Homo sapiens: one gene and its partner. The protein of the gene in region 2 purifies or fractionates together with the protein of the main gene of each other region. This does not show direct contact. Each region holds a gene or a part of one and is shown on either strand. Other genes may lie near its edges.

Region 1 (3,749 bases), on a different chromosome or scaffold from region 2:
TTGTCTTTCTGCCTCTATCTAAAGCAGCATTTTCATTTGTTCCATCCTTTTTATCTATGTTCAACCCATATCCATTCATTCTATGTGTAACCTTTCTCATAAGTGACTTGCTTCTACATTTTAGTTTCTCTTGTTTTATAATAGAATTAAATATTCTATAGTAATATAGCAAAAGCATTACAGCAAACCCCAATGAGCAAACATGTATCATATCACGTTTATGATGTCCTCCTATTTATTGACCAAAACAAGTCAAATAGCCAAGCCCACAGTCAATGTAGAGGTGGACCACACAACGGAGCGGATAATAGAAGGTGTAGTTCATTGGGGATCACTACTATAACAATCTAATACTAACACATAGTTAGGAGACGGTTGATCCAGGGATCGAACTTTCCACAGTCTGTCTCTGGAGGCTACACACTAAACTACTATTCTGGAGGTGGTTGGGAATGGGTTCTTACTGAAGAACTTTTTTCAAACCTCACTTCCCAGGTCTGGGGCCTGTGATCCACCCCAGTGAATCAGAATATCTTGGGGGTAGGAAATTGTGGGGGGGATGGGGTGGTACTCCCATGAGCCTGAGACTGAAATAGCTCTGCAGAGGATTCCAGTGCACACTAGGGAATGAAGGGGGTTTCAAAGACAAGGAAGATATACTTTATGCACTCAAAAAGCTTTCATTTCCACAGAGAGCATTCTTAATTGTTGTTATTACATCACAGAGGCATCACCTTGGAATTTAAAAAAGAAGCGATTCCTTTCAATGTTTAAGAGACATCAGTGTTTCTCAAGCTTTCGTGTGTGTTATTACTGGAGGGCTTGTTAAAACCCACATGACTGGGTCCAATGTCTACGTTCTGATTCAGGAGGTGTGAAGTGGGGTCCACTATTTCTCACGTCTAAAAAGCTCTGGGACACACTTTGAGAACCAGAGTTAGAGAAGTAGGAGGCTTTAGTGGTAACAATCCTCCATTATTCAGTTTAATATTCTACTTACATGTAGCACATTTACTACCTACAAGTTTCCGGGCTGAGTGCAGCACTGTTTATGATAAGGATGGGATTTAGATCTTGATTACGCTCCAGCAGATTTATTAAGTGGATTTATTCTCTAAGGGTGCCTAAGCGTCATTAGACAGGTTCAGATAAAGCAGAGATCTCCTCCCTTAGAAGAGATTAGGGACAGCTTAATGAAGTAGGAGACCTTTCACCTGGGCCTTGAAAGATGCCTAGGACCTGGATCAGGGGAAATCGTGGACAATCAAATTATTCTTCCCGCTTTAGCACAGAGACAAAAAAATCACAAGCAACCACTAGGAAAGGTCTATGACATTCTTGCCTCTGCCTCTAGCATTAACAATTTGCATGCCAGCTGCTGGAATCTGAACGGGGAGGACTGTTCTCGTGTCAAGGGCTCAGTCTCAGACCCTCCTTGGGCAGGGGTGGAACTGGCTTCGCTTTCTCTTTGGGGCGCCCAGAGCGACTGCATTAGAGCCGGCCTGCTCGGCCGAAGCGGCGGTGGGCGCTGACTTGGCGAAGGGCGCAGCTGGGGCGCTTCGTTCCGGAGCAGAGCGCCGTGATCCCGTCGGGGCTGGGGTGGCAGCGCAGCTCTCCGCCTGTCCAGAGCGGGGCCGCACGCCGGGGCACCTTTCAGAACAAGCTCCAGATGTGGCCCCAGGTTGGGGGCCGGGTGGCAGCTGTACTACCCTGGCGGGCGAGGGGTCCAGAGCTCGTTTTCCCTATTCCGATCTGTAGGTTTAACGCCAGCACAGGGTGGCGCACCCTACCTCCTTCCACCTTCACGCACCAGCGCGGGAGGGGACGCGTGTGCACGCTCCTCCCCTAGGAGGGAGGGCGGCCCGAGAGCCTGCAGACTGCGCCTGCGCAGCCTCGCTCACACACCTCCCCGCCCCCCCGCACCTCCTTCCCCTTTCGCCCCGCCCCGTTCCCACTTCTGCTGCCGCTAGGGGTAGCGGCGGCGGCGGCGGCTGCGGCTCGGGAGCGCGGCTGCTTTGAGGGCTCGGGAACCTTACAGAGTGGGGACGTGGGGAGGCTAGAGGGTGAGAAAGCTGGCGGGAGAGTAGGGCGGCGCTGGAGGAGGGCGGTGCGTGGCTGACTCATCCTCTGGAAGATCAGACTGACAGAGACACACACTAGCCCGCCCCGCCCGCCCGCGCCGCTCCTCCTCAGCCGGGAGGCGCCCGCCCGCACCGACCGCCCGCCCTCTCCGGGCGCTGTCCGGGCCCGGCCGTCTCAGAGAAAGTTTTTCCCATCGGAGGGGCGGGAGCCGCCGCGGGCCTTTTGGAAAGGAAGTGGGGACGGAACAGGAGGCGAGAGCCGCGCGGGCCCGCGGAGTGCATGGTGCCCGGCGCCTCGGCTGCCTGGCAGGAGGACCTCGGGGCGGGGTCGAGCTGAGCCCAGCTCCTTCTCGCCTCAGCCGCGCCAGAAACCGCCTTGCCGGACGGCCGCGGGGGTCCCAGCTCCTCAGCTCGCCATGTCCCGGCTGCTGCCGCTGCTGAGGAGCCGGACCGCGCGCAGCCTGAGGCCGGGCCCGGCCGCCGCCGCCGCGCCCCGCCCGCCGTCCTGGTGCTGCTGCGGGCGGGGGCTGCTGGCGCTCGCGCCCCCCGGCGGCTTGCCGGGCGGCCCCAGGCGGCTGGGCACGCACCCCAAGAAGGAGCCCATGGAGGCGCTGAACACGGCGCAGGGCGCGCGCGACTTCATCTACAGCCTGCACTCCACGGAGAGGAGCTGCCTGCTCAAAGAGCTGCACCGCTTCGAGTCTATTGCCATTGCCCAAGGTAAGGGGGGCAGGTGGGGGGCGAGCCCGGGGGCCCCGACGCCCTCCTCTTCTCGCCAGCCCACCGGGAGCCCGCTGCGGCCCTGGATCTTGGACCCCCGCCGCCGCCCCCCTTCCGCCCCCCTCGCCTGTCTGGCCCCACGCCTGGGACGGCTGGGGGCGGGGAGACTTTCCGCCGCCCGAGTTTCCCCCAGGCAGGTAGGACGGGCGCGGGTCGTGCCAGGCAGCCGAGGCCAGCGCTAGCTACTTCCTCCCCAGCCTCCGAATCCGGAGCTTCGGCCTAAAATGCCAGTTAACGCTGTTGGGATTGAGTTTTGATTTGCCCCGTGCCTCCCCTCCCCAGCCCTCCTGTCCCTTAGCCCTTGCTGCTTTCTTGCGAGCGTGCACCCGTGCAGGTGGCATGCTGTGCCTGCTCCGAGAAAGTGCTGCAAACCCGCCTGGCAGGAAGAAACTTTTTGAACGGTTATCAAATGAAGACGTATGGGTGGGTAGCCAAAAGAAGGGGTGTAGCTTCGAAAGTCAGGGATGCTCATAGCTGCTTGTTTCCACACATGTCTGATTGCGTTAATTTCAGCAGCCAAAGGAAACATTTTCTCCAGAAATGGAAAGACAGATTCAAGTTAAACTCCAGTTTTGGTTTTTCCCAGAGGTTGAAAGAATGAAATAAATAAGGAGGTATATTTTTTGGAAATCTGTGGCTCTGTAGTAAAAGTCAGACTGATGCTCAAAAGTAATTGGGAATGATGAAAGCAAAACGATTTTTAAACTAGCATGTTAAAATAGGATATTTCTAAAAGGAGTCCAGAATGGGGTAGGGCAGAATTTGAGTCTAGGTGAAAAAGCTAAAAGTTCAGAAAATAAAAAGGATGAAAGGAGCAAACGACTAAAATGGATGTCTTAAAATATTTCTGCCACTTAAATACAGTTATGTAAACAAAACACATTGCTT
Region 2 (3,749 bases):
ATTTGTACAGTTAACACAATTATCACAGTGGTCCTGAGGTGGTGTACATCCTCAACTTATGAAGATAACAGGATTAAGAGATTAGAGTAAAAACAGGCATAAGAAATTATAAAAGTATTATTTGGGAACTGATAAATGTCCATGAAATCTTCACAATTCATGTTTCTCTGCCGCGGCTCCAGCCAGTCCCACCATTTGGGGTCCCCGACTTCCTGCAACATTGCAAGTCATCTTGTTTTAAATTGCTAGATGATCTGTGCAGAGCATGTACTAGGAACAGTCTAGAGGAGGGATCTGGAGGGACTCATTTCCCTGGCAGCTGAGATGGAGATAGGGGTAAATGGGGGTATGAGATAGGTTTAGGGAAATTTAACAGAAAGCCACATCTGTATTGTACTTTACAGGTTCCAAACTGTTTGTATACACATTCTTACCAAATATTCACAATAACTCTGGGGTTAGATATTTTAACCCCATTATCAAGATAAGAGTCTGGAGGGCCAGGCGCGGTGGCTCATGCCTGTAATCCCAGCACTTTGGGAGGGTGAGGCAGGCAGATCATGAGGTCAGGAGATCGAGACCATCCTGGCTCACACGGTGAAACCCCGTCTCTACTAAAAAAATACAAAAAATTAGCCGGGCGTGGTGGCGGGTGCCTGTAGCTACTTGGGAGGCTGAGGCAGGAGAATGGCGTGAACCAGGGAGGCGGAGCTTGCAGTGAGCGAAGATGCGCCACTGCACTCCAGCCTGGGCGACAGAGCAAGACTCCGTCTCAAAAAAAAAAAAAAAAGTCTGGAGGCCAGAGGGGTAAAGTTCTTTGCTCAACATCCTGCAGACCCAAATCCAGGAATTCTGATTTCATATTCTGTGCTCTTTCCCATTGGAGACAAGAGCCATTAACAATATAAAGAAATTCTCAGAGTGCCTCTATTTCCTGGAGCATTAGAAAGTAGAAAATAAATAAAGGTGGGGAAAGAGTAAAAAAGAAGGAAGTAGGAAAGAAATGGAAGAGGGAGAAAGAAAAACAAAGAGGCCATGGGGGTGATAAGGCAAGCACAACATTTATAACACACTAAGTATCTAGCTCAGTGCTATGCATAAGATATGTCCAATATGTGTATCTGAATGGTTTTTAAAATGTATTAATTCATATCTAATAACTATATATTTTAGTTATACAGTAATTTCTCAAACATACAAATGCTTGTAGCTTTCTTCCTTGGACCCAGTATGTAGATTTGGCCATGGGTCTCTCTCAGTTTCCTTACAGATTCTAGCATATGGATTCAGTGCCTGGAACCTGCACATGTTGTGGAGTGGAACATCATTTTATTTTCCATTCTCATAACCCTCAGTGGGCTTCAAGTGATCATCTGCCTCATCAGAGTAGTCATGCAACTATCCAAGATACTGTGTGGAAGCTATTCAGTGATCTTCCAGGTAACAGATTCTCATGGGCACCTGTAGCTCATCCATATTTCCCCCACTTCCCAGGATTCAATGAGGCTTTTTGAAAAGACTCTAGAATTCCATCACTTTCCCCCCATTTCTATTGCCCTCATCTTTATTCAAGCTCTAATATCTCAATTTTTTCTGATATCCCAATGTGTCTTGGCTTATCTATAAGGGTTGAATCAACTCAGTAATTGTAAAATCTGCATTTCTTGTTGTATGGTAAGGCTTCATAAGTGTTTTGAATGAGCAAAGTTTTAGTGTTCTACATAGAGATAACTCAAAGCATGATGAAATTTTACCATTTATCAAGAATTTCCCTGTTCATAAGTTAAGCAAAGGCTCAGAACCTTATCTCATTGAAATAACTTCTCTTCTGAATGCTGCTACATTCAACTAATGAACCTTTATCTCGAGTGCATAGGAGTGCTTTTGAAGAAGAAGGGAAATATGTATTTATCCCATTGAAACTACTTCTACTTCGTCTGCTAAAATACTAATGTTAATTTAGTTATGGTTGAAACTGCTATCAAGAAGTCCAGAGTGAAGAAAAATTATGAATTTAGATGGCTTGTATTTTGTTTAACAACAGAATGTGTAATACCTTTCCTAGCAATTTCTAAGAGATGTTTTTTCTGTTCTATCATATTTTGAATATGAAATATAAGTTTAAGTTGCTATCTGGATTACGGATTACTAATCAAGCCAAGTTTATAACTTTAATCACTTTGTTTTTCCTTTTTTCCTATAGCCTGGAATCATTTGAATAAGGACAAAATGTTTTCCATTATCAAGACATGGCCATCTATCTAAATATTATATCAACTGTGTAGACTTGAGGGCAATATTGAAATGATGGTGCTTTCTGCATTTGGTGTTTATTTGTAAAAAATTTGCAGTCCTCACTGCACATGCAAGTATACCACCCTTCCATTTAGTATGTTTTTTAAGTAATATGCATCAGAAACTTCAGAAATACTTCTGCCCTTTGATCAAACAAATCCATTTCCAAGAATCTGTACTAGGGAAGTAAATAAGAATATGAGAGAAACCTTTATGCAAATATGTATATTGCAACATTATTTAATATTCTGGAAAATTGGAAACACCCCAAAATTCTAAACTCAGAGGAAGGATTAAGTAAAGAGTGGTACATACTGTAAATGTTTTCTGATATTAAAAAAAAAATTAAATAAAAAATAAAGAGTACTACATGGTTGTAAAATTACAGTCATTACAAATGATGTTTTTAAAATTATGAATAATGCTACATCAAAAAGCAGGTTACAAATTCATGTTTACTATATAACTATTTAAAGCAAATGAAACACTAATAGTCAAAGTTTAGGATGAAAACTAAATCTAAAAGGAAATATAACAAAATGCCAATTATGCTTGGTTTGGGGCATTGATGACCCTTCTTCCCACTTTTCTATATTTTCCAAGATTTCTTTATTGAATATGTTTTACTATAAATATTTTCTAAACTCATATTTTCACTATTAAAATTTTTTTATTTTTCCAAACTTTAAGGCATATGCTCTTTCCACATTCCTCAACATTATTTGCAAACATCATGAAATGACACTTCCATCAACATTCAATGAGGAAAGTAGTGATATAGATGAGCCAAAAAGAGTTTTATATAAACTTATACAATCTAAACTCTTGCTCTTCCTTTCTGACTCCTGAGGGTGAGTGTGATGGACTAGAAGAGGTAGCCTTAAAATAAGTGAGCAGCTAGGGAACATGCTCAATGGGCAAGAGAAAATGACCACTGACCAGTCAATACCTGTGTCAGGGGGAGTTACCAGTACCTATATTTATTTTTAAAGTAATTAAAAAGTAGAACACTTACAAATTTTCCACCTATACATGCCATGTCTTCCTCGGGGACAGTAGCCACATCTTATATATTTCCCACCATGCATAGGACCCAGCACACAGTGAAGCCAGTAGGCACTCAGTGTTGAATGCTCATACCAGGTTTTCTGCTTCCTGTAGTTACCCTGCTGAGCACTGCTTCCATCACAGGTGCACTGGGCCTCAACACTTCTGCCATTTCCCCATTTGTCTCCTCCATGGACACTGTCAACAATGGTCTGTCAACACCTGCTCTGTGCCAAAGCCAGGGAGTAGGCTGGGGGGATACGGAAGAGAATATCTTTCTCCTTGATGCCTGCTGTGCCAACAGCCCCCTTTAAGCCTTGTTCACAGCCTTTGCTGAAACAAGCATCTTGAAAGCAAGCCATGTTATACACCGCATGACCTTCATGCTCTGGGCCCAGCTGACTGAA

Evidence for each region. Proteins that work in one complex are often made in the same cells at the same time.
Region 1: the proteins of TM4SF18 (region 2) and TMEM65 purify together in Homo sapiens (affinity purification with mass spectrometry; 2 studies listed by BioGRID and IntAct, with this or other methods). This does not show direct contact.

What each region holds. Positions count from the first base shown.
Region 1 is NC_000008.11:124,370,906-124,374,654, reverse strand, and holds the start of TMEM65 (transmembrane protein 65), read left to right. Parts: upstream 1-1,953; 5' UTR 1,954-2,497; coding exon 2,498-2,801; intron 2,802-3,749. UniProt on the Homo sapiens protein: Essential for maintaining proper cardiac intercalated disk (ICD) structure and function as well as cardiac conduction velocity in the heart.
Region 2 is NC_000003.12:149,319,947-149,323,695, reverse strand, and holds part of TM4SF18 (transmembrane 4 L6 family member 18), read left to right. Parts: intron 1-1,259; coding exon 1,260-1,440; intron 1,441-2,203; coding exon 2,204-2,218; 3' UTR 2,219-3,749.